Linked DNA regions of Homo sapiens: regions 1 and 2 are each linked to region 3. The links come from fine-mapping of genetic effects on gene expression. A gene starts in region 3. Each other region holds a variant in brackets. All regions are shown on one strand. Distances are from middle to middle. Region 1 overlaps GUCY1A1 (guanylate cyclase 1 soluble subunit alpha 1). Region 2 overlaps GUCY1A1 (guanylate cyclase 1 soluble subunit alpha 1). Region 3 holds the start of GUCY1A1 (guanylate cyclase 1 soluble subunit alpha 1).

The links. PIP is the estimated chance that this variant, and not a neighbour inherited with it, causes the effect. A credible set is the group of variants that fine-mapping cannot tell apart.
Region 1: its variant is the best candidate, but not a certain one, in a credible set for the expression of GUCY1A1 in whole blood (TOPMed, PIP 0.64).
Region 2: its variant is the best candidate, but not a certain one, in a credible set for the expression of GUCY1A1 in whole blood (INTERVAL, PIP 0.85).

What each region holds. Positions count from the first base shown.
Region 1 is chr4:155,692,411-155,700,598 of GRCh38, reverse strand. It overlaps GUCY1A1 (guanylate cyclase 1 soluble subunit alpha 1), which reads right to left. Exons shown (of 10, transcript NM_001130682.3): 3 at 3,477-3,843. The coding sequence starts at 3,731. Among named protein-coding and RNA genes, the nearest start is that of GUCY1A1, 30 kb to the right of the region's middle. The variant C/T (reference allele first, on the strand shown) is at 3,757.
Region 2 is chr4:155,720,123-155,728,310 of GRCh38, reverse strand. GUCY1A1 (guanylate cyclase 1 soluble subunit alpha 1) reads right to left here. Exons shown (of 10, transcript NM_001130682.3): 9 at 6,119-6,273. LOC105377506 (a long non-coding RNA gene) reads left to right here. Exons shown (of 8, transcript XR_007058484.1): 6 at 335-481; 7 at 752-777; 8 at 3,805-3,893. Among named protein-coding and RNA genes, the nearest start is that of GUCY1B1, 35 kb to the left of the region's middle. The variant G/T (reference allele first, on the strand shown) is at 3,950.
Region 3 is chr4:155,663,443-155,671,630 of GRCh38, reverse strand. GUCY1A1 (guanylate cyclase 1 soluble subunit alpha 1) reads right to left here and starts at 4,783. Exons shown (of 10, transcript NM_001130682.3): 1 at 4,666-4,783; 2 at 4,212-4,285.

The sequences.
Region 1 (8,188 bases), 29 kb before region 3:
AGAATAGATCTGATTAAATTATTAAAACAAGTACTTTTGCCACAAATATACCATATATGAATACTTCAGGAAAAACTGCTATTTGATGCAACATTGCTGTCAACAATGTGAATTTTAATAAAAATATCATTGGTGTGGTTTATGGATAAGTCACTATTTTCATTGGCTTTTTAATTTTCCTACAGTGCTTAACGTTTTTCTAGACCAATAATATTTTAATTCATAAGATAAATTGTAATACTGTTTCTTTTTCTTCTTTCAACCTAATATTCTAGAACACATCTACAGACCTCGTGATTCTCTTCAAATCCTACTCTTACTAGGTACTTGATTTGGGATCTTATCATTTATGTAAGCATATCCAATTCAATTATTTCAATTCAGTAAGTGGTTTCTGATTTGCTTTGACTGTGGCTCCATTAAAAGCTCCTTCAAGACAGTATGCCTGAAGGAGCTTACAGAATTATTGGGAAACAATACCCATGAAAAAAGAGCAAACAATATTATATTATGAAGAGCAATGGGTTGTGAATGAAATGCAGAGAGTTTTCCATTTCTCCAGTTATCTTTTGCTTTAAGCAAGAGATCTAAATTTATGTGTCTCTATTTCTTAAAATAGAAATGATAAGTTTGCATTAGATGATCAAGAAGACTTTTTAAAGCTCTAGTATTCCATTACTTGAGAACGACCTCTCTCATGTTACATTTTCTAAGGATAATACATTTTTATACTTGCCTGTTCACTAATAAAAATATAACCAGGAAGTTAATTCTGATTATCTAAAACAAAAATTGTGATGTCAAATGCTATTTTAAATATCTTCTTTTGTATTATTAATACAACTGACACTAAATAGCAGTCTAAGCATTAAATCTATAAACTTAACAAATAATCAGTAAAAAAACATAACAAGTATTTATCAAAGATAAGCAGATGTTTGAAGTCATCTAGATTGAGGACTACACAGCTCAAATGTATTCAACACTGGAACATTTACTGCCATAACGATAATATCTCAGTTGGAGAGGAGTTTTAGTTACTAATGCCAAACATACCTCTTCCATCTCCTATAGTCTTGCCCTCTCTGTTACATGACACTGTAGTCAAATCTTAATGCTTATTCTTACAAACTCATGAACAAACAACATAGACTACTAAATTTTTTATATACAATTTTAATTTGGTATTGCATCCTAGTCTTTCAGTACATTTTCCTAGGAAAAAGAGAAGGGAAGTTTATAGCAGCCTGTATGGCTCTTCAGGATCAGGAGAAGGCACACCACCCAGAAACTTCTCCCTCAGCAGGAAAAGAGAGGAATGGAACATGCACATCCATAGAAAATGTTTGAGAGGCTCTCAAAATCTCTAGCTGAGCCAATTGGTGAATGTCTTTTCCTGTGAAAACCAGTCTGAAAAGAAGCAAAGAGGTGACTGCATACTCAAGTGTGCAGGCACCAATGCAAAGCTACAAGGGACACGAAAAATCAGGGAAATATGATACAACCAAATAAATAAATAAATAAATAAATCTACAGTAACCAGCCCTAAAGAAATGAAGAACAATGAATTACCTGACAAAAAATTCAATATAATGAAATTTAGTGGGTTATAAGAAAACACAGACAGACAACTAAATAAAATAAGAAAACTATGCATGAGCAAAATGTAAACATCAACAAAGAGATAACCACAAAAATAGAGCCAAGTAAAAATTCTGGAATGAAAGAATAACTGAACTGAAAAACTCAATGGAAAGCATTAACAGCAGACTTAAGCCAAAGAATCAGCAAATTCAAGAGAGGTCATTTGAAGTTATTCAGTCAGAAGGGCAAAAAGAAGAATGAATGAAAAAGAATGAAGGAAGCCTGTGGAACTTTTGGTGGCACCATCAAGTGAACCAGAATTTTTTTGTTGTTGTTGTTGAGACAGAGTCTCGCTCTGTCGCCCAGGCTGGAGGTGAACCATAATGTTTTTTAAAAAAGAGTCCAATATGTGTATGACTTCCATTGCAGAAATTCAAAATTTACCAAACAAAATGATAAAGCCAACATAGTAAGGACAGGATTCAGGGAAAACATAGAAGCAATCTCAGCTTCCTCATCATCACCTTTGGTTCATTTCTGTTCATTTCACTCTGTCCTTGAAATGAGAGCACCGATTGTTTCCCAGACTGTGCTACAAACCAACTCCCTGAGGAGGGCTCTATCCTTTATCCTAGCCAATGCTGGCTGTCTAGCAACTAGAGTGTGGTAAGAATAATTAAACATTTCCATTTCAAAGGTTATCTGCCAAAGTACTATTGTGTTAATATTATATCTGAAATAAACTCCCTCAACTTTCTGCTAAGTCTAATTTATCCATCTTTCAAACTTCAATTTCTTCTTTCTCAGTCATTCCAGCCTGGACTGTTTACAGCAGGAATTAATTGCTCTACCCTTTGAAAGCTGTGTAATTTTGGTCAAGTCACTGAACTTCCCTAGCACTTCCTGGGAGTGAAACAAGATTATCTGTTAAATTCCTTTCAGTTCTGAAAATCAGCCAGTCCATGTTTCTTTGGTGCTTTGCACACAGTAGAGGGTTGGTATTGAGTCAATTAAAAATTATCAATGTATTATGTTAGCTGGTGTCTGATTAAGTCAATGTCCAGCCAAATTCATAGGTTAAGCAAATCTATATAAAACTATGAAGACTGACAGAGGGAGGAAGACATCATGAAGACCTTCAACTGCTCTTCTATTTATTTAGGTCTGTGTCCTCTTCCCAGAAGTTTCCTTCAAGGTGGATTGACAGAAGGTGCTCTAGATCTCAACATGACACTATGCTATGCAGCTTGCAGGGCTATATGAAGAAGTGTGAGACCTAATAACACGCAGGTGTAGGCAATCACAGGCTCATGACTCCGACCCAAGGGAGAAAGTCAAGACTGGCTTGAGCAGAACTTCAGAATCAGAGCAAGTGGCCAAGGGAGATTTTCACAACTCTGAAAACTGGCAGGGGACGTATGATGCTCTTTAAAATTAGGAGAGAAAATTTGAGCAGAAAATAAGTTATTCTTTGAAGAATTTAATTTTAAGATAATAGCTAACAACTACTGATCACTTATGTTATGGCAAGAGCTATGGATGGTTTCACTTAAAACTCATTAAAACTGTAGAAGGTGGGTACTACTATTATTTCCATTTTAGGGATAAGGAAGCTGAGGTAAAGAGGCATTAAGCCTGTTGCCCAAAATCATAAAGTTTGTCAGACTGCAGTGTTCTTTTGAAAAGAATTCAAGATCATAAACATTTTAAGATAAAACACAACTTAAGAACACAATTGCTTTAAAAGAATATTTTTATGTGTTTCAAGAAAATATTCTACATTTATTGTAGCCTTGAAAGTGAGAAAGGAAGTGTTTAAATTTTCCTTGGAAAAACATTCTTCTACAATTTCAAAGTATTACAATTTCAAAATCTAAAGAGCACGCACTCACCTCTGGGAAAATCAGTTTGCAAATACTCTCTGCCAAAGTGTGAAGATAGACTCGGCTCCGACTGGTTTTTCTTTGAGGAAGACTTTCTTGTATGTTCTTCTCAGGAATGTCTTGACAGATGGGCACGGTTGCTTTGCAGCTCTCTGAGCTTCCTGCTGCCTCCTCTGAAGACTCGTTAGGAACTTGACCTGGTGCCAGTAAGGAGAAAGGACACTCTCCTGTGATCTTGAGATCCTTGAGCTTCGTGCAGAACATGGTGTTGGTGTCTCTTACCCTGCTG[C/T]GATCTCCTCCTGATGAGCTGTAGTTCTTATATGAGACTGACAAACAGAAGCCACTATCAATTCAAGGACACTGGTAACTGGGATGTCTATGGACAGCAAAAAGTCAGAACAGAAAGAGGAGTGACTTTATGCACGGATGAAAACAGAAAAAGACAGGTGAGCAAAAGCAATAGTCATGTCATTCTCAAGTTAAAAAAATTCTGCTGGAAATGCCAATTATAAAATGAGCAGGACATTTGGCAAAGATCTTTACTTAATATGTGTGAATTTCACAATATTAGCAAAATACTTCCTCTTACTATTTTAACTTTTAAAATAAAATATATTTTTCCAAAATGTTCTTAGCATCAACTACTGATTTCCATTTTTTACACTCATCTGGTCCAGTTTGATTTCACAAGAGTGGAACACCACGGTTTTATGACAAAAGCCACATCTAAGTTTATGTTTTATTCATGCTTGTACTACTACATTCTCATTATGCTCTCCTTTCTGAAAAGTCAGAACAGTAAAAACCAATGGCTTCCAAAAATACCTAAAGCAAAACAATATGTATAATGATCCCCAAGTATATGTTTTCAGATTTGAAACACCAACTTAGAAAAAAAAAGTTCAATGAAAAAAAGTTCAATGAAGATGATTATGGCAAAAGAAAAATTTTATCACTTTAAATGGTAAAGCAATTTAAAAATATTATCATCAAAATGAAAAAAACATCAGAACTCCTGATCCCCAAGAACATACCATGGGATTTGCAGGGGTCTCTGGAAACAAATCTAGACTGCGGTGAGTCAAAGACTACCCCACTTCCCACTGAAATCATAAGCATCGCCATTCCAGCATATTTCCCCCAGTACTTTTGTTTTTGTTGATGCTGTGGTTGTAAATTCTCCCACAATTCACAACCCATTTATCATTAGCTATTTGTTACTGGAACTGTCAAGTTGTGAATTCAGTTCATCAACAATACTAATTATCTTGATTAACTGGGTCTACCAGCTATTTCCTACTCTTGGGGAAGAAAAACAAAGAGTGGAAAAGAACCCATATTTGCTAATCCCCACATGTACTAAGTACTATGTGCCTGACACAGTGCTGGGAACTCTATGTTTACAATTAATCCTCACAGCAACCACATAACACAGGTATTATTATCCCCAATGGGTGAGAAGCTCAAAAGTTTAGGTAGTTTTCTCTCATTTCAAATGCTAGAGAATGACTGAACTAGGGTTCAAATGCAGATTCAGCTGACTCCAAAGCCAATGTGTTTTCTATAACTCCAAACTAATATTACTAAATTAGAGCAGTTTCTACACAATCGGGCTTTGTTAATCAACTTAGATTTTTATCTTCAAAATATGGTTTACAAATTTATATTAAAATTCAGTGAGGAACATAATTTCCTGTTCATTGGCTAGTGGTATCTGAAACATCCAAGATTCAGCCTTATATTTGAATCTTTAGAGTTGAAGTTCAATTAGGTTTTTTTTTTTTATTTTCTATGCTCCTCAATGCCCTTAATATGTTCCCATAAGCAACAGCCTGTAAATTGTCACATGTAAGTCATCTAATAAGTTTAGAACAATGAACAACTCATTTTCTGAACTGGGACAAACAAGGAAGCTAAATTCAGTATCTGATCCCCATGGGATGTCATGGGACATTAGGTATAGAGGAAGATTATGGATGCTGGCAGGCCAGAAGAAGCTGCCAAGGCTCTGTTACCTAAAGTTATAAACAAAATCTATGCTCATATATAATTTATGGAACTTCAAGAAGGGACAAAAGAAAATCCTATGCATTTATGAGTAGAAAATTTGTTCTGCCAGAACAGAATGGAAGCGGTCTACCTCAATAGACTACTGAAGTGGTCCAAAGGTAATATGGCTATAGGGGGAATGATTACTTAGGTTCTACAAAACCTAAATATCTAATAATTTTACCCACATTTGTTTTGGGACTTAATGTAATAAATATTTGTTTCTTAGTCTTTACTACATCTCAACATAATTCTATTATTGTTTAATAACTTCTCTTCTGATTTAAGCTTCAAATCAATGATCAGCTTTAAGCTTTAAAAGTGCTTTAACCTTTTCTGTAAAGGGCCTGAGAATAGATACTGTCAGCTTTGCAGGTTACATGGTCTTTATTGCAAGTATTCAACCCTACCATTGCAGTGTGAAGCCAGCCAGAGATGATATACAAATGAATGGGCACAGATGTGTTCCAATACAACCTTGTTTGTAAAAGCAGACTGTGAACATAGCCAGTAGTTTGCTGACCCCTGGTTGTAGAAAACCGAGTATATTAACTAAAGCATTTTAATTAAAATATAATTTTGACTATAGGAGCAAAGTTATTTCCTCATCTCCTCTAGTCACTCCTCTCCAAAAATAACAGCCTACGCAGGTCCAGTTTTGGTTGGGGTTGGGGAGCTTGGAGAGTTTTTTTCATTATTATTAGTAGAGAAAAGGTCTCACTATGTTACCCAGGCTGGTCTGTAACTCCTGGGCTCAAGCAATCCTCCTGCCCTGGCTTCACAAAGTGCTGGAATTACAGGCATGAGCCACTGTGCCTGGCTGGGATCCAGTTTTTGAACAACTTCAAAGTAATCAAAAAGAGTGTAATAGATAATACTAAATAACTATTTATACAAATAATAGTACCACTATTTTGTATTAATTTTCAGGGAAAAGAGCTTTATTAACTGAATGCCACTATTTCAGTTATATCAAAATCTAACTACAATAACTAGCAAAAAAGGGTACATAAAAACAAAAGGAAGACAATAAGAAATGGAAGATTATAGGTTAGGTCTGAGGATGGCATAGAATTATTACTAAAACGAATTATTCTGGTATATATTAGAATTTTAGTATTGGACTTAGAAGTTTGCCATAATATAGTTTATAATAGATCTTTCCATTAAACTTAACTCTCTCATTCACATTGGATTTCAACGCTGGTACCCAAGCCCAATATTTTAATTCTTATCTTCCTACTGAATCCAGCTGCAGTAGAATACAATTGACCAGTCAACCTTCCTTGAAATAATTTCTTTTCCTGTACTGCACGGTACTATAATTTCCAGGAAATAAGCCGAACAGTGTTTTTTATTAAAGCAAAAACAGCCAACAGGAAGTAAGTTGTGCTTACTTTAAGATAGTTAAGTGTTTAGTCTCATTAAATTACATATGTATAAACAAACTAATTAGCATTCTTCATCTGCTCAACTGATGAAATTACACTATGAAGCAGATGCACGCAGTGTTGATACCTTGGAAACCTGTTTGTCTTGCTTTTGCCTGCCAGGAATACAGAATACAGAATATTCCTGGCAGGCAAAAGATTGTTCCTCAAGTAAACTAGTGATGATTTTTATGGGTAACGTTAGCAGTAACTTCAGAAATGGTTTGGTCAGTGGGTGAATTCAGTACATAGTTGGTTGTAGAGATGGTAGTAACATGGTAAGGGAAAAACAAATAAATTAAAATAATAAATTTGGCGACAGGCCTTGGCAAGAAGTGGAATAATATGTTCTCAGAAACTTGAAGAGGTACTTCTCATTCCAAAAGTTGATAATTAAACAGCCTCCAAATAAACTTAATGCTCACTCTCTTTTTACTAGTGAGTGATTAACTTTGCCGTGGTGAGAATAATGACCCAGCTACTGGCCTAGTATTAATAACAGGGACAGATTATTGTGCAAGTAAGGCAACCCTCAATCATTTAAACTCTAGAATTTAAAATTTAATGAAGCATGAACTTTTTTTTTTTTTGTTGGAGACAGAGTCTCACTCTGTCATCCAGGCTGGAGTGCAGTGGCATGATCTTGGATCACTGAAACCTCCGCCTCCTGGGCTCAAGCAATTCTTCTGCCTCAGCCTCCCAAGTAGCTGGGATTACAGGTGGCAGCCACCATGCCCAGCTAATTTTTGTATTTTTAGTAGAGATGGGGTTTCGCCATGCTGGCCAGGCTGGTCTCGAACTCCTGACCTCAGGTGATCCACGTGCCTCAGTCTCCCAAAGCACTGGGATTACAGACGTGAGCCACCATGCCCATCCTAGAATTCAATTAGGCATGAACATCTTGTTTACTACATGTAACAAGATCATGTAGACATGTAACAATATCATGTAAGGAAAACACCCCTTACCACACTCTCTGGCACTGATACACTTTTCTCCAAAAGCAGGTCTTAAGGAGCAGATGAAAAGTTAGAAAAAGACACTTTTCAAAAGAAGGCATACATGTGACCAACAGTCATGTGAAAAGAAGCTCAACATCACTGCTCATTAGAGAAATGCAAATCAAAAACCACAATGAGATACCATCTAACACCAGTCAGAATGGCTATTATTACAAAGTCAAAAAATAACAGATGCTGAGAAGGTTGTGGAGAAAAAGGAATGCTTTTTAATTTACACTCT
Region 2 (8,188 bases), 57 kb before region 3:
TGAAACCTGCCAGAGTGGACATAGTAACACCACAGAAATTGGCAAATGCTGGAATCATGGATTCTCTACCTCATCCTCCAAAGCTGGTTTACCAGCAAACCACTCCATTAGCAATAGTTAAAATGAATAATCTAGATTTATGACTAGATTTACATTTTATCAAGGAAACTATCTCAGAAACATAATACTGAGTGGATTCAAGGCAAGTCTTAAAAGGATATGGATATGTTCACTGGGAATCTATTTTCCTCTGGCTTTATTTTTCTATCTGGCAGGACCTAAATGAAAGTGATATTCCTGCCTCTCTCTACCCATTTTCCTTCCTGGAAAGCAGAAGTGACATCTTATTGATGAGTTGTGGAGAAGCTGCTGAACATGCATCTGTATTTGGGAGACTGTCTGCAGAGAGTACATATTCTCAGCTCCTACAAGCTATAAAGCACTTAGGATCCATTGTGTCAGAGCGTGTAACAGGGACCATGTAAGAGTTTCTATTTATATTTTATTATATTAATATCTATTTACTTTACATTTTATTTTTTTATAAAACAGAAACCTGAAAGAAATATGGCAAAATGTTGATACTTAAATATTAGTATTGGCTACATGAGTGTCATCTTGTTTGCTTTGTTTTTTTATATGTTTAAAAATTAAATACAAAAATGTATGCAACTATAAGAGTCTAATAAATAAAAATGTATAAAACTATAGGTGATTAAAAAAATTTATCTATTATTTTTTCTATCTACAGCAACTCAACATTTCCTACTAAATACGGTAATGACAATTATAATCTCCTATTTAAATGTATTATATACATATATTCAGCCTTTAGAAGTGGCTTTAAAGTGCATCATTTGAATTTATTAAGGGCATTGCTCTAGATTGCACGTCTGGTAAGTGCTGTTTGTGGGACTCTAAGGCATGTCTTCTGAATACAACTTCTATGCTTTTTAAAGACACTTAACAGACAAACATAATTAGAATGCTATGGAGTTTGAAATGTTCATTATATTGTCTTTTTAAAAAATCAGAATATATAAGAAAAACCATTTAGAAAAACAAACCATTTCGATGAAAGCTTGATGATAGCAACACCCAAAAAAGGCAGCAACAGCCCAGATGTCCTCATAGGTGGACATTTTTCTCTACACCTTCTTCACCAGACACCATTTTTCCGCAAATTACTGCATCAATGCTCCAATTCTCTGTTATCTTTCCTATATTCCTTTATTCACTTTGTTCCTTCTTCTTACAGAAGTCAATTCTTGCTTCTCTAGCACAATGTGCTCAGACTTGTCCTACAAATAAGAGATTCTAGGCCTGTTTACCCCACAAACTGGACAGCATCCATGTATCCTCCCCACTTGCCATTTTTGTTTCTAATGATCCCTGGATCACCACATAATCCTCTAACATTGACCCACTGACCTGGAACTAATGTAGTAGACCTGGATCCACTGACTCACTGATCTAATGTAGTCTCTACTAGTCTCTATTAGTTTTCCTTACTTCAAGAATGCAAACAAAATGTCGAATATTATCCCCTAAAATTAAAGTAAAACTCCTGACAATGTTTAAAAAACAGGAGTGTATAACTGTCATTACACTGCTACATTCTGAATCACTGATTAGAATTTGGAAGTGGAAATTTGAAGATACAGGTTTTTTTTTGGTATAGGTATGTATTCTGTGTCCTAAATTTACCTGTATTTCAGAAATATATCATGGAAGCTACATTCAATATTAAACAGATTATTTTATTATTAAAGAAATATCATTCCAGAATTTAATGTATCATCAATAAAGCTCTCCAAAGAAAACTGCATTTTGTGCTTGTACACCTTCTTTAGCAGCCGCTTCTTGTACTATAGTTTGAGTAAAACTAAAATTATGCCCCTACCGTTGACTAAATTTCCCAAAGCATTGGATGTTTAATTGAAATTTATTTATATTATTTTAAGTTTTCCCAGCATATGGAAGAAAAGTGAAGTATCTCTGAAAGAAAGGAATTTAAAATGTTGTTAAAAGTATTTAACATTAAGTATTTATATTTTGCCTAAATAAGACAGTATTAACTACTGCTTTCCCTTAGGCAAGGCATAAATATCTCATATACGAGAATAAAAAGAAAGTAAACTATTATTGAAATCAATACAAAAGGAAAAAAGCTATATCATATTTGTCTATAAAAAGTAGAAATGACTTCAGCAAATGAGCTGAAGTTCAATATAAATTAAATTAAAATTTCAATGTCATTCATGCATGTGTATATAAACGTAACTGAAACAAAGACAGAAATGTTAATAGTTACTATCTCTGGGTAATGAGATTATGACTTATTCCTATTACTTACTTTATAATTTACTAATTTTGTAAATTTTCTGAAATGGGCATGTGTTACCACAGTAATAAAAAATTTATTTAAAAGATAACACCATCTATGCTATAAAAACCTATATGTGCATTTCTAGTAACATTGCCAATACAGTGAATCTAAGACTTAAGTCATGAGCATTGTCCTGTTGTCAGAAATATATGTCAACATGTTGTGGTCCTCTGCTGAAATACATGAGATCCTGAATTATATTTTGAAGAAAAATAAGTAGCTAATATCAGTGCCCCCTAACATGACTCAAGACCACCAGACTTTGAGATACAAAATGCAAGAATTTAAAAAGTTTAGTTTCATACTGTTAAAAACAATCAATATAGAAGAAAAAGGAAAATATGCTTTTTATATGTAGCAGTTTTGTTTTAAGGTAGGATTCCTCAGTATGCACATATACACATAACACATCACTTAACATTGAAAGAGAAACACAGGTGTCAGTGAAAGGATGGGCAACTGACTCCTACTTAATAGGATGATTCCTCTTAATGCCTACAGAGAGAGTAGAATCATATTATCTCAAGGCATGGATTCTTATCCCTACCTATTATACCCAGTAGGACCATAGGCCAATTACCATTACAATGAACCCCAGGGATTTTTCCAATTCTCAGGTTATACTGAGTTGTTTTCATACCCAGGAGTCAACAGTTAACCAGTAAATACTTCTTGCTTTCCTTCTGTGTTTCACGCGCTGATCTAGGAGCTGGGAATATGGAATGTGTACCACAGGAAGCTAACATTCTAAAAAGGGAGGCAGGCAATCAACACATAAATAAATACTGCATAAGACAATTTCAGATACAGGTGTGAACTGAGAAGATGAAATAGGATAATGAGAGGGTATGTGAGGAGAAGGTTGTTGCTATAGTTATGATAGTTAAGGAGTGTCTCTTTAAAGAGAGGAGAAGAAATGATCACTGTAAGGTCGATGGTCTGAGTAACTAGGTGGATGGTGATATCATTTTAAGGTGATTGGTAAGCTTGCCTGGGTGGGAAGTGGATTTCATCAGTCTGTGTGGGAAATCACTCATTCTAATTCGGTCCAGTTCATTTTAATATGTGAATTAGTCATCCAAGTGGAAATATGGAATAGGATATATGAGTCTGTAGCTCTGCAGAGAATCACAGGATGGGCGAAAGATTTTTTTTAAAAAATAGTTAGAGTCATAAAAGTTCAGATACAGAAGATAACAGGAAAAGAGGCTCTGAGCACGGCAACAAAGGTTTGGTAGGGAAGGAGTACCAAGAGAAGACACTGAGAAGGTGTAGACATGGGGTAGTGAGAAAACTAGGTGAATGTGGTGCCAAAAATTTAAAGAAGAAAATGTTTAAATGAGGGAGTTCTCAGCCTATTCAAATGCTTCTGAGAGGATAAGGAGAGAAAACTGACAGTGATTTTATTTTAGCAGGGCACAATGATGACCTTGATAAGAACCGTTTGAGTGGAGTAAACACTGACTGGAGTGAGTTGAAGAGAAAATAAGAGGTGGAAAAAATACAGATAGTGAGTATAGACAACTTCTTTCAGTTTTGCTATAAAACAGAGCAGAAATT[G/T]AAAATTGTAGCAGAAGCCGGACTTGGAAACAAGGAATTTTTTATTTTTCAATTCAGAGCTTTAATAGATATGGTTGTATTCTGTTGGGAATAATCATTTCATCAAAGAGAAATTGATCATAGAGAGTTAATTTCCACAGAAAAGTTATTGAGAAGGTGAGAGGAAATAGCACTGAGAGTAAAACTGTATCAACCAGGGGCAGGAGGGGAGCTGGGCCAATGTAATGGGAACAAAGAAGGAGGAGATGAGTACTGGGGTAGCTCTGCTGAGAGAACCTACAGCACAAAGATGGCAAAGCTCCTGTCTGACTTCTATTCTGGTGGTGAAATATGAGGCAAGATTATCAACTGAGAGTCTGGGCTGGAAAGGAAAGGATGCTGGTGCCTTAAGAAGGGAGAAGACCAGGTGCATTGGCTCACGCCTGTAATCCTACACTTTGGGAGGCCAAGGTGGGCAGATCACTTGAGGTCAGGAGTTCGAGACCAGCCTGGCCAACACGGCAAAACCCAGTATCTACTAAAAATACAAAAATTAGCCAGACGTGGAGGCGGGCGCCTGTAATCCCACCTACTTGGGAGGCTGAGGCAGGAGAATCACTTGAAACTGGGAGGCAGAGCTTGCAGTGAGGCAAGACTGAGCTGCTGTACTCCAACCTGGGCCATAGAGCAAGACTTAGTCTCAAAAAATATAAATAAATAAATAAATAAATAAATAAATAAATAAATAAATAAATGCAGAAGAAGAAGGGAGAAGATGCTATTAAAGAGTTATCTCTGAGAATAGGAAAGCTAACTTGCTTAGTATAATTTAGCTACTGTATAGATCTGAAAAACTCTTTTGTTACTTAAGAGTTTCCAATATAATGAGACAAAATGTACATGAAAGATATATTTCTAGTTACCACGGATTGGTTTATTTTCCGGTTAAAGGTGGATAAGTGATAACAAAATGGTAGATTTTATTGACTCAGGCTGTATACTACATGTTGTCAAGGCGACAGTGAAAATAAAGGTTCTTCTGATGCTAGATGACACGTGGCTCCTCTGACCGTGTTAACACTTGCTGCCAGTCCATAAAACTGCAATCTTTGAAAAGTGCTCGATGACCAGCTAGTTTTCCTCTGGTAAATTCTTCCCTGTATGATAGGGAATTTGACTGGCTGTTGTCCTTGATTGCAGGGAGGGAGCTTCTAAAACTCTTGGATTTTTTGAGTTATAGGAGTATCTGTTTTCCATGAGGCCCTTGGATCACTTTTGAGTTTATATTAATGAGATGACTCAGAATGGGGGCAGGGCCCCAGAAAAATCAATCTTGTGGATAGAAGGTTGGGGTTTTGTGTTAGCCTAACCTCTGGGGAGGAGAGTGGGGGTGGTGACTGAGTTCAATCACATGGCCAATGATTCAACGAATCATGCCTACATAATGAAAACAATAAGACTCCATACACCAAACTCAAAGCTCAATCAGGTGGAGCTTCCTGGCTTGTGAACCCACTGAGGTGGCTGGAGGGAGATAAGTTCTGATTCTATGGAAGCTCTGCATTTGGGACCCTCCCAAACCTTACCCAAACTGTTTCTTCATTTGGTTGGTTCTGATTTGTATCCTTCGAAATAAAACTGTAATAGTAAGTATAGCAATTCCCTAAGTATTGTGAGTCATTTTAGATAATTATCTAACTTGAGAGGTTCATGGGAACCCCCAAAATTGTAGCTCAGTCGTCTAAATGCATACTTAGGTCCTGAAGGGTGGCTGGCATCTGAATTAAGGGCAGGCTTGTTGGGTTCTGTGCCCTGTAACTTGTGGTTATGACTGTGCTGAGTCTGGGTGTTTACTGCCAGAACTGCACTGCAGTGTACTAGTTGATGTCAGAACACCTATCAACATACTAAGAGTATTAATATGTGCTTCTAAAAGAAGAATGATGGAAGACTATGTAATATCTGTCATGGATTTATGGCTGGGCCACAAACACCTCAGGCAAGTCATTCTTAGGAGGCTAATAAGCAGTGTAAAAAAGTTAAAGTGAGGATGATAAAAGTTATCACGTTTCTTTTTTCCTTACGACTAAGGAAGAAAAAAGTTATGAAGAATGAATCAAATCAGTGGGGCAAATGGCAATTGTATATAAATAAAAACAAGAGATTTTAGGTGTTTAACATAATTACTACCTGTAAGTTGTTGGGCTGACATTGATTTTTCGTGGTACACTGCAGGACTCAAATTTGTTAGCCAGAGTGACATTGTTTCCAAAAAGACAGTAACGGGGCATTTTAACTCCAACGACGCCAGCAAAAACTGATCCAGAGTGCAGTCCAATTCGCATCTGAAAGCAAAAAATAACATGATGTTCCCAGTCACTGGTAAAACACTTCCTACTCGTCAGTGTCGTTTGAATACCGTCTAAATTATTTTACCATTCACCCTCAGGACACCACCCCTTTCCTCAAAACCTTCAGCCAACTTCCCTCTACTCCTCACATGCAATTAAAAATTACTAGTGCAGAATCAACAGTCACACTTCTTAACTCTTTTCCATTTAGGTTTATTACACAAACCATCTTAATTGTGTCTGTCTTCAACATCTGAAACAAGTTTCCATGCACAGGGATCATAGTAACCACAGCAACATAGCAAGGGGGATATGAGCTGTTTATGTGAAACTGCCACCTCTCATTCAAGTGAGATAGACATAATTTCTGGACTCCTGGAATCATTTTCCCAAACACTGACAAAGAAGGGCAAATGAAGCTAGCTCTAAGGATATTAAATATATCTTTTAGACATTTTACCTCAAAATAGCTTTATACCAAACACTATCCCACTGTTCTAATGACTTACAACTGAGGAAATGAAATTGTAATATTTAAGCAGAAAATGACAGAGGAAGCAGAAAGTGGAAGGTACTTGAGTCCAATGACGATGACAATGTCTATATACATGAAATTAAAAATCCATACTGATGAAAGATCAGATTTGTGCCATGCCTAGATATAAGAGGCAGTCTGGGATGTGTTGTGGCAAAATTTTAGGAATTCTGGAAGTCTCCAATGATTTGGAAAGCCACTGAGACAGAATGTTTTATTTTATTTATTTTTTAGAGACAGAGTCTTGCTCTGTCACTCAGGCTGTAGTGCAGCGGTACCATCATAGTTCACTGTAACCTCGAACCCCTGGGCCCAAATGATCCTCCCATCTCAGCCTCCTGAGTAGCTAGAACTACAGGCATGCACCATCACACCTGGATAAGTTTTAAATTTTTTGTAGAGACAAGGTCTTGCTATGTTGCCCAGCTGATTCTCAAACTCTTGGGCTCAAGTGATCCTCCTGCCTCAACTTCCCAAAGTGCTAGGATTACAAATGTAAGTCACCTTGCCTAGCCAAAGCAGGATATTTAACAATGGAATCTTCAAAGGTCTGATTACTTGATGATCTTAAAAGATTCACAAACACTTAAATTACTGCTACTACAAAACAAGCTAAAGTGGAGATATTTTAAATGATGATGATACCATGTTAATTATTTTCAAACTCTTTGTTTACTCAACCATTTTAAAAAGTTGTATTAGATGTATGCGTTTTGAATGAAGACCAAGAACTCAGTAACTTGGATATAATTTAGAAATCAGAAGAATTCAGTTATGTCTAGTTTTAATAACTAATTTCAGATATCTGCTAGAAACTTTCCAGACTCATTTACTTTTAAGATGTCATATGAGTTCTACAAAATTTTCAAACAAAAGCACTAGACTGTGAATCAGGAACTTTGTATTCTAACAAGCTCTACTAGTAACTGGTAGTCTGGCTTCCTTAAGTCTCTTTACTTCCCTCCGATCATGTTTTCACCTATAAAATGCAGGGGTTTGATTATTTTTAAAGACCTTTCTTCATCAAAGTTTTACTTTAACAAGCAAAACTTAGATGTCTGTTATATATCTGGCTTTGTCTCTTTTAGGAGAATATTAATTTACACATTTAGCAAGTGATAGATAGATAGATAGATAGATAGATAGATAGATAGATAGAATAAAGCTCTTCTGCTCATAAATATCAACTATGACTTCAGCATATTTAGATTGAGGAATTTTTGCTTTCTGTGAGCACTCTTCTGGTTAAACCAGTTTTTCTTCCTATACTTAGTTACTCCAGCTTATTATATATTAAATTTACCATAGCATTTTTATCTTGTTTCATAATTAAAATGTAAATATATTCTGCTCGTAAAAACCGAAACGATGCAG
Region 3 (8,188 bases):
ATAATTTGCCCAAACTGACCTTAACATCCTCTGTGAATTAAAAAGTATGGTCCTCTGCTAAGAATGAAGAGTCTGGAGATAATCTGGGCAGACTAGAAAACCTGGAAAAATCCAGAATATGTACCATGGAGAATTTGATATGACATTAACTAAAAAAGAATAAAATAGCTGCACAAAGTATCCTCCAAGCTGACATTGGAGTGAAGCAATTGGTAGTTGGCTACAAGATACAGTTATGTCTCTCTTTGTCCAGCTAAATCAACAGCAAGGAAGGTAAAGCAAACATTAAAAGTGAAGCTGACATTGGGAAGGCAGGTTCTGGTAGGTCTAGTGGCAAGAGATTTAAGGGTTGGAGCAGAGTTAAAATTGTTGGTGAAATAAATAACAGTTTACAAGCAATTCTGAAGAGGCCACAAACTATATGACGGAAGAGCACACAAGGGTCTCTGTCACCAAGACCATAGCTCCATGTGGTAGCATCAAAGCATAAACAAGCCTTAATTCAAGAATAACAATGACAACAATGTTAAGCTCTTTAGACACCTACTATGCACCAAGCACTATGGATCCAACATTGGATACCGTGAAGGAGATTTGAGTTTAATGGGAGATGCAGACATTTAAACAGGTACTTTCAATGTCATGTGACATAGCAAAAGGGGATAAATAGATAGGCTGGACCTAGAAAAAAAGGTCAGGATTAAGAAATGGGTCTGCCCCATTTGCTTCCCCCCTAAGAAGGTGTTCACTCTCAAAGCCATTGTCTCGTGTCGACTTCCTGCTAATTCTTAGTATGGTGAGATAGATGACTTGGTATGTGAGTTAATTAATTTGACTTGGCCTCAATTTTTAAAATGGAGGATTTGTTTTAATGAAATATTGTTTAATGGCCAGAAAGCATACCAGAAGTTAGAAACTACAGGCTGTGAGGCACATTCTTGTGGCAAGGAAGAGCCTGCTCCAGAGTCCCTCAAGTTTTAAGATGTAGCCATTCTCTCCTACTGTGGGCTGAGAGGGAAGCCCACTCTACAGCTCTTCTTTCACCCCTCCAAAATAACTCTGTTCATCCTCTGTAAGCCTTCGAGGCTATAGGAAGATGAAGCCTATTGGCATGAACCCAGGGAAGAAGAAAAATTACATATATAATAGGTAAGACATTTCAAAATGTTCTGAAAGAAAATAAAAGAAGCAGATATGATTCAGGATAGCCAGGAAATTACTTCACCCAAAGTAAATCAACTAGTAACTAAACATTGACAAAAGCTCTTCTTATATCAAGTCAAGATGTAGACACCCAAAACAAACTATTGCAGAATGAATGTAGATGGTCAAGAGACAAACATATTTTTAATTATTAATACTTTGGGGAAAAAATTTGTTTTTACAAATGTGCAGAAAAGTAATAAATAGAAATGTTTAAGAAAAGTGGCTTGGGTAAATATTTTTAATTAACCAGTGTAAAAATAGTGCCTTCAAAATGGAATATTCTCACAAATAAAAGCCAAGCAACTTCTTAGTGAATCTGACAGAAAAAGTCATTCTCAGTAACAGCTTCCTCCAAAAATTTTTCCCATTAATGCACATACTTTTTGGCTTGTATTACTGAAATGTTGCTTTACCTTTCCATTTCCCCTTACTTGTAGAGATTCATTCTGATGGCTAATTTGATGTTTATTTAGTTCTGAAAAAAGGTTAATTAGAAATTATGGGGGTGCAGATCGTGTTATTTTAAACTAACCTGTAAAGCAAGAAATATTATCCTCAGTCCACACTCATTAGTTGCTAGCAAATGTAAATGCAGGATTTAATTTCCCTTGTATAGTTTCTGAAAAAATTCAAAGTTATGCAATATCAATGTGTCAATAAAAGTGATGTTAGATAAACATTTAATTTTTTTCAATTTCATTTGAAAAATATAACAAAATTCTTAAAATTCGGTCACAAAATATTTTACTGATGTATTTGTAATAGATATACTTTAATTTTAATATTATCACTTGTTTGTAGTGAAATATTAAAATAGCTTTTCAAAATGTCTTAAGAAAGATCCCTTAATAAGACATAATTATAAGAGTTATAAGTACTAAGCATTGTGAAGTTTTTCACACTTTTGTTTTTGGTATTGCCATAAATAAATAAAATAATTTTATATTTCCTTCCTCATTCTCCGAATGACAGAAAACGATTTTAATCATGTTATTTAATACCTGAATATCTAGAAGCAAGACCTTTAAGGGGCTATTTATATTTCATACACTATGAGACACTATACCAAGCATAAGTACTTTATATTTTGATTGGATTTCAAAGACAAAAATATAATTTTTATTTTCTGTCGTATAATAGAAAGAGATCTTACAATATAAAGTATAAATATACCTTATAAATATAAATATAAGGTACCCATCTATTAATTACAAATTTCTACTAAATACGTTCACAGACCTGTTTCCTAATACATTAAAATACATACATCTGGTCTATTTTATGTGAAATATTTAACTACGGTAACACCATTTAATTGTTCTAGAATTTTCCTTCTAGCCTATGTCTGCAGGCTGTATGTAGACAGCCTGTTGTTTTGATAAGAAAAAGTATGGCTTACGTGTTTTTACCCCGTGGTTCTTAATTTTCTATTAGGACACAGGTCCATTTTGGATATTTGACTATGTACTATCTCCCTTAAAATGCAGCCACTCTAATGTTTAAATACAATTTTAGGGACTTCACGGCCCCTTGAAGAAGATCACGGACCCAGTTGTTTAATGGCTGAACAAAGCACAGAATGCATAGACAACTTCCACTGAAGCAATAATAAAGCTTATATGTATAACTTTCAGACCAATTAAGTGTTGCTTATTTTGGTTACATCGTCGTTGCTATCATAACGAGTTTACTTTTTACCACTGTACATAATAGGGTACCTGAAATGATCACTCTTAAAGAAAAAATATGTATAGCAATTTTAGGAAAAGCAACAGACCACTTCTACACTCTGAACCAAGATAAAAAAAAATTATATCAAGTGCTTCTATGCTTACCCATATGTAACAGGAAAGTTTGACGTTTGTACAAAGACAGTTCTAGTAAGTGGTAGAGATGTATGAAATCAAATCAATTCATTAAATAGGCATTTAGTGAAATTACCATAGGAGAACTGATCCTAAAACATCACTATTGATATGTTATAAATGAAGTTCAAATGAAAGAAAAAAAAATCTGTCCTATTTAAAACTCAGCACTGTTTCCATAGGTTCCAAATCAAGATGCCTTCAACCAGTCATCGTTAAGTGAGCCATACAATCTTCTGGCTTACTTCAGAAGATGTAAACTGTTTATCGAGTGCAAAATGAAAGAATAACCATGTGAAAATCAGTGAGCAGAGAAAGACGCACGAAATCCATAGCCTGAAATCACATGACCACATTGCAACGCAGCCCCTCACACCATTGTCACTGTCAGGCAGCTCAGGCGACAGGGTGCAGACAGGCGCGGAGACCGCGGTGGCCCCCTGCTCACGCTTTCTCCAAGAGCCGCAGTCCTAACGAAAACAGAAATGGGACTGCTAAGCAGTAAATCATTTGTCTCTCTCGCACACACGCGCACACCTCGTGGAGCCGCTGGGCAGTTAGCCGGCTGCCTTCTCTGGGCAGCCCAGCGATCGCAGCTTTTGCTGTGGAGGAGGACGCGCCTCTTACCCACGCCGCAGCCGGCCGGGTGAAGTTGCCCTGAAGCCCGCCACCGCCTCCAGCCCTGCTGCCTCCGGGGTCCAGGCATCCCCCAGCTGCGCCCGCTCGCTTGCCTGCCGGCGCGCCGGAGGCCGCAGCGCTGCACGCGGCTGATGGGCTCTGGGGCCCAGGCGCCCTGGCCGTGGGAGACCAGCGGCCCCGGCGCGCCCCGCGCGTTCTCACGGCCCGGCCCCGCGAGCTCAGCAGCCGGCGCGGCGCTGCTCGGCGCCCACCCCCGTCTGTGCTCCTCCCTCGGGCGCCGCGGGTCCCCCGGGCCCTGGGCCGGCCCCTCGGGCGTCCTCTCCTTTCCTCTCGCTCCTCCCCAGCGTGGGAACCCGATGCTGGCTTCCCAGGGCTGGGCAACTGGGAGCGTACCGAAGGTTTCTCAGGAGAGGAAGGAGACCCAGCCCAAGCGGGGGTCCCGGAAGAGGGACCGCCTGTCTGAAGAACCCCGACCCGCGTGGGGATGCAGCGACCACTTACTTGGTGGCTTCGCACACCTCGGGGCTGTGCTTCCGGATCTCTAGCAGCTCCAGGGCGCGCCTCGCAAATCCGCACTGCGAATGGAGAAAGAGAGCAGGCGTCAGGGGTGGCAGGCAGTGAGCGGGAGAGGGGACCCTGCAGTGGCACCTGTCGGTCCCCGCGCGAGTGCACCCTGGGCACTCGCGGCAGCGGCACTTACGCTTGGGTCGCTCATGTCTACCTGTTCAACAGGCTAGGCGGGACGCGGCGTGCCTCGGAAACTGTATCGCCCGCGTGGCTCCCAGACAGTCCTCCTTGCCTTTGTCTCTCTGTGTCTGTGTCTCCCTCTTTGATCACCCCAAAGGAACCCTTGCAGTTCCTTTCCATAAGGCATTCGATTTTTTCAGACCTCTGCCCGCCTCCTCCCCTTCTCCGCACCGAAAGACTGAAAAAGAAAGTAGCAGCCAAAACGCACCATGGTGAGATCACGCCCGGCTGGGGTCTCTAAGCTCCTCCAGGCGCTCCCTCCCCCACAGGTGTCCTCCGCCTGGGTCTGTTCCAGGCTGCTCGCTGCTCTAGCGCAGGAAAAGTGTAGGAAAACTCTGCACTGAAACCTGCTTCTGGAAAACTGACTCTGAGCTGAGTCCCACCCACTAGGCTCAGACTAGGGCAGGGGAACTGAGTCCTGGTCTCTGCAGCCGCCCAATCGCCATAACAGAAATCACTGTGTGGAGACAGAGACCTAGGGGCAGGGGACAAAAAAAAAAAAAGAGAGAGAGAGAGAGAAAGAAAAAAATTGGAGGGGACTCCAGGAAAATTTGGCACACTTAAAAAGAAAAACAAAAACATGTCTTCTCCACTATGCACTGGTGTGGAAAAACTGTAGTTTTCCACAGTTAAAAACTCCAACATTTCTGCTGGGGAAGTTGACATCTGCGCTGATGACTCTCTTGTCCTGGTTTTCAGATTTGAAGCCAATCTACTCATTTGCAGATGCAGTTTTATGGTTACAGAGATTTTACATCTTTTCAGTAAGGTCTGGCTTCTGCCTGGTTCAGTGCATTTAGTTATATTTGTTACCGTTGTGTGTGTTGTGATATTATGCTTTTAGTCACCTTTCTGACTTAAAAAAATCCCATCATGCTGTTCCATTGTGAATTAACAATTAATCATGATCTTTATGTGATCCATTTTCAATTCAGTTCAATTCATGGTTATCTTCCTCTTTTATATCTCCCCCAAGTACACCATCTAATCTGGTCCCATTTGTAAGCTCATCACATTTGCAAACTTTCTCCCAGTCTTGCCTACTGTGCTTGCCTCATAGTGAACATTAATCAGAATCAGGAAAAAAATACATTTAAATAAGTCAGGAACAGTTAAGAAAGTCAGCAATATAAGCACAGGTAGTCACAGAAACTTTTGCCTTCCTGCCATCTCAGAAACTTCTCTTCCTCTACATTTAACCCATGATACTCTCTTAGATCAGTAGGACATTTGTACTAAGAATATTTAGAACTTCAGATGTAGAAGGAAACTTAAAAAATACACAGTAATTCATTAGTAAAAAGAAGAGGGAAGTCATACTATTTTTAAGTAAATGCTATGAACATTCAGAAGAAAATGAGATATTGTCTGACAGGGTTCATAAAGGAACAGTACTAGAGATAGGACTTGAAGGATTGGTTATGTTTGGAAAAAGATAAAATAGAGGACTTTTTTGTTGTTTTTGCTTTTCTCTGACAGAGGGAAACTTGTGAGCAAACATACAGAGGTTGGAAAGGCATGACACTGTTATTCAAGAAACAAGGAGTAATACCATCTGGTAGAAATAAAAAGTACATAAAGAAAAGTGTAGGAAGATACGGTGGAAAGATAGGCCGGGTTCAGATGCCTGATCCGCAGTTGTCACGTGTTGCAGGCTTGTATAAAGACTTTGTTGTTGCTGTTGTCCTCGTCTGTTGATACCATTACCAATATTCCTTTCATTCTGGAAAATGACTTGTTTAACCCATTAATTTCTACTTTTACCATTCTCAAGTTTTATGGCACACCAAACTCCTTGATTAGTATTGCATTTGACCCCAGTACATTCTGCCAGGAGCTACCGAGTTTTACTAAGAGTAGACTCTCAACTGGATAGTGTCTTGTCTTCTTCCTCCTCTATCCTTTCTGACTGTCAGACAATGGGTAAGAAGAGGAAGCAACCAATCTAAACATAAGGGTGGCTAGAACCACCAAAAGGTGACTGCAAAAGACATTCTGTAATCTGGATGTTTGATATGCTCTAAAAAAGTAACAAGAGTTCCTTGTTGTTAGGGAAATACTAATCTTCACAGCCTAATTTCCTAGTAATGAAAATGGTTCATAACGGGATTCACTAAAATGCCTGCTGAGTGGATAAATGAATACCTGAATATTTCATCATCTTCCAGGTCCAATCTTCTTTCTTATAGTTGACTTATGGGTTAAAACCTACTTTCCTCCACTTTATGGAGAATAAGAAAGTTGTCATGACAACTTAATAAAAATGTTAACAAGGAAAATTACTCAGTGTAAAGCAATCTCCTTAGCCATGTTGATGCTGGCAGAAAAGCTCAAGAAATTTTTATTTCCTCTCAAGATGCTTTGTTTTTCTTGTACCTACAACCCACAATTGACAACAGCATGAAAGCATTTAAATGTACATTACTTTCACACTTGCAAATGAAAGGACAATGGCAACTAGAGATAGTATCTAAATCCTTGCTACTCAGAGTATGGTTTCTATATTAGCAGTATCCCATAACCTACAATCTTGTTGGAAATACAGAAGTTCAGGCCCCTCTCTAAACCAACTGAATCAGACTATCCATTAAACAGAATCCTCAAGTGATTCCTATGCACATTAAAGTTTGAAAAGCACTGGTCTACTATCAAGGCATTAAGTATGATAAGCCTCAAAACACATCGTATGAATCTTTCTAAATTCAGGGATTTTTAGAACCTGCATCTTTATTTTTCTGGGTTACTATTGCCATGTCAGTTCAAATAAAGTAATGGGACTAATGGTTTCATCTCTACTGACTTTGTGGACCATAAAAAATCCATAAACCAAGGGGAATTAAGAACGAGATAGAGAACAGTAAAAGGGTAGAAATGAGAGAAGTGTTACATATATGTCAGGGTCAGAGCTTTGTTTTATTTTTAGCAAACGAACAAACTATGGATTGTATGGTTTACCAAATTAGGATAACCTCTCAAATATAAGAAAAATAAGATAAACTTCTGGCTCCTTATTTCCTCCTTTTCTTAGTATTATTCATTTTCAATTTGTTTTAATGTACCTGGTTAAAGTTTACACTGGTAACTTGCAGTAAGATGATGCAAAGACTCCAAAATGTCTCTTTTGTATGAATGTAAAGCTTTAGTTAGAAAAACTAGATCTTATTAGGTTGGCGTCCACGCATTTCTAGTCCTGGTATAGACATTCACAAAGCAGCCTGGACTGGAAGAGATTCTGATGGTAACAGAAATGCTGTCCACTATATTTTTGCCAAGGAGTTGGTGTTTGTGAGCAGTAAATACAGTGGTAGGTAGAATAATGGCACTCCAAAGATGTCTACCTGCTAATCCTTAGAACCTGTGAATATGCAATTTTACATGGCAAGAGAGAAGTAAGGATGCAGATAGAATTAGGGTTACTAATCAGCTAGTCTTGAGATGGGAATATTATTCCAGATTAGGTGGGTGAACCAAATGCAATCAAAAGGGTCCTTGTAAAAGAAAGATTAAAGCAATAGAGTCAGTCAGAGTCGGAGTGATGCTATGTTAGAAAGAATTGATAAGCAATTGCTGGCTTTGAAAATAGAAAGGGGGCTGGGTGCAGTGGCTGACACCTGTAATCCCAGCACTTTGGGAGGCGGATGCGGGTGGATCACTTGAGGTCAGGAGTTCGAGACCAGCCTGACCAATATGGTGAAACCCTGTCTCTACTAAAAATACAAAAAATTAGCTGG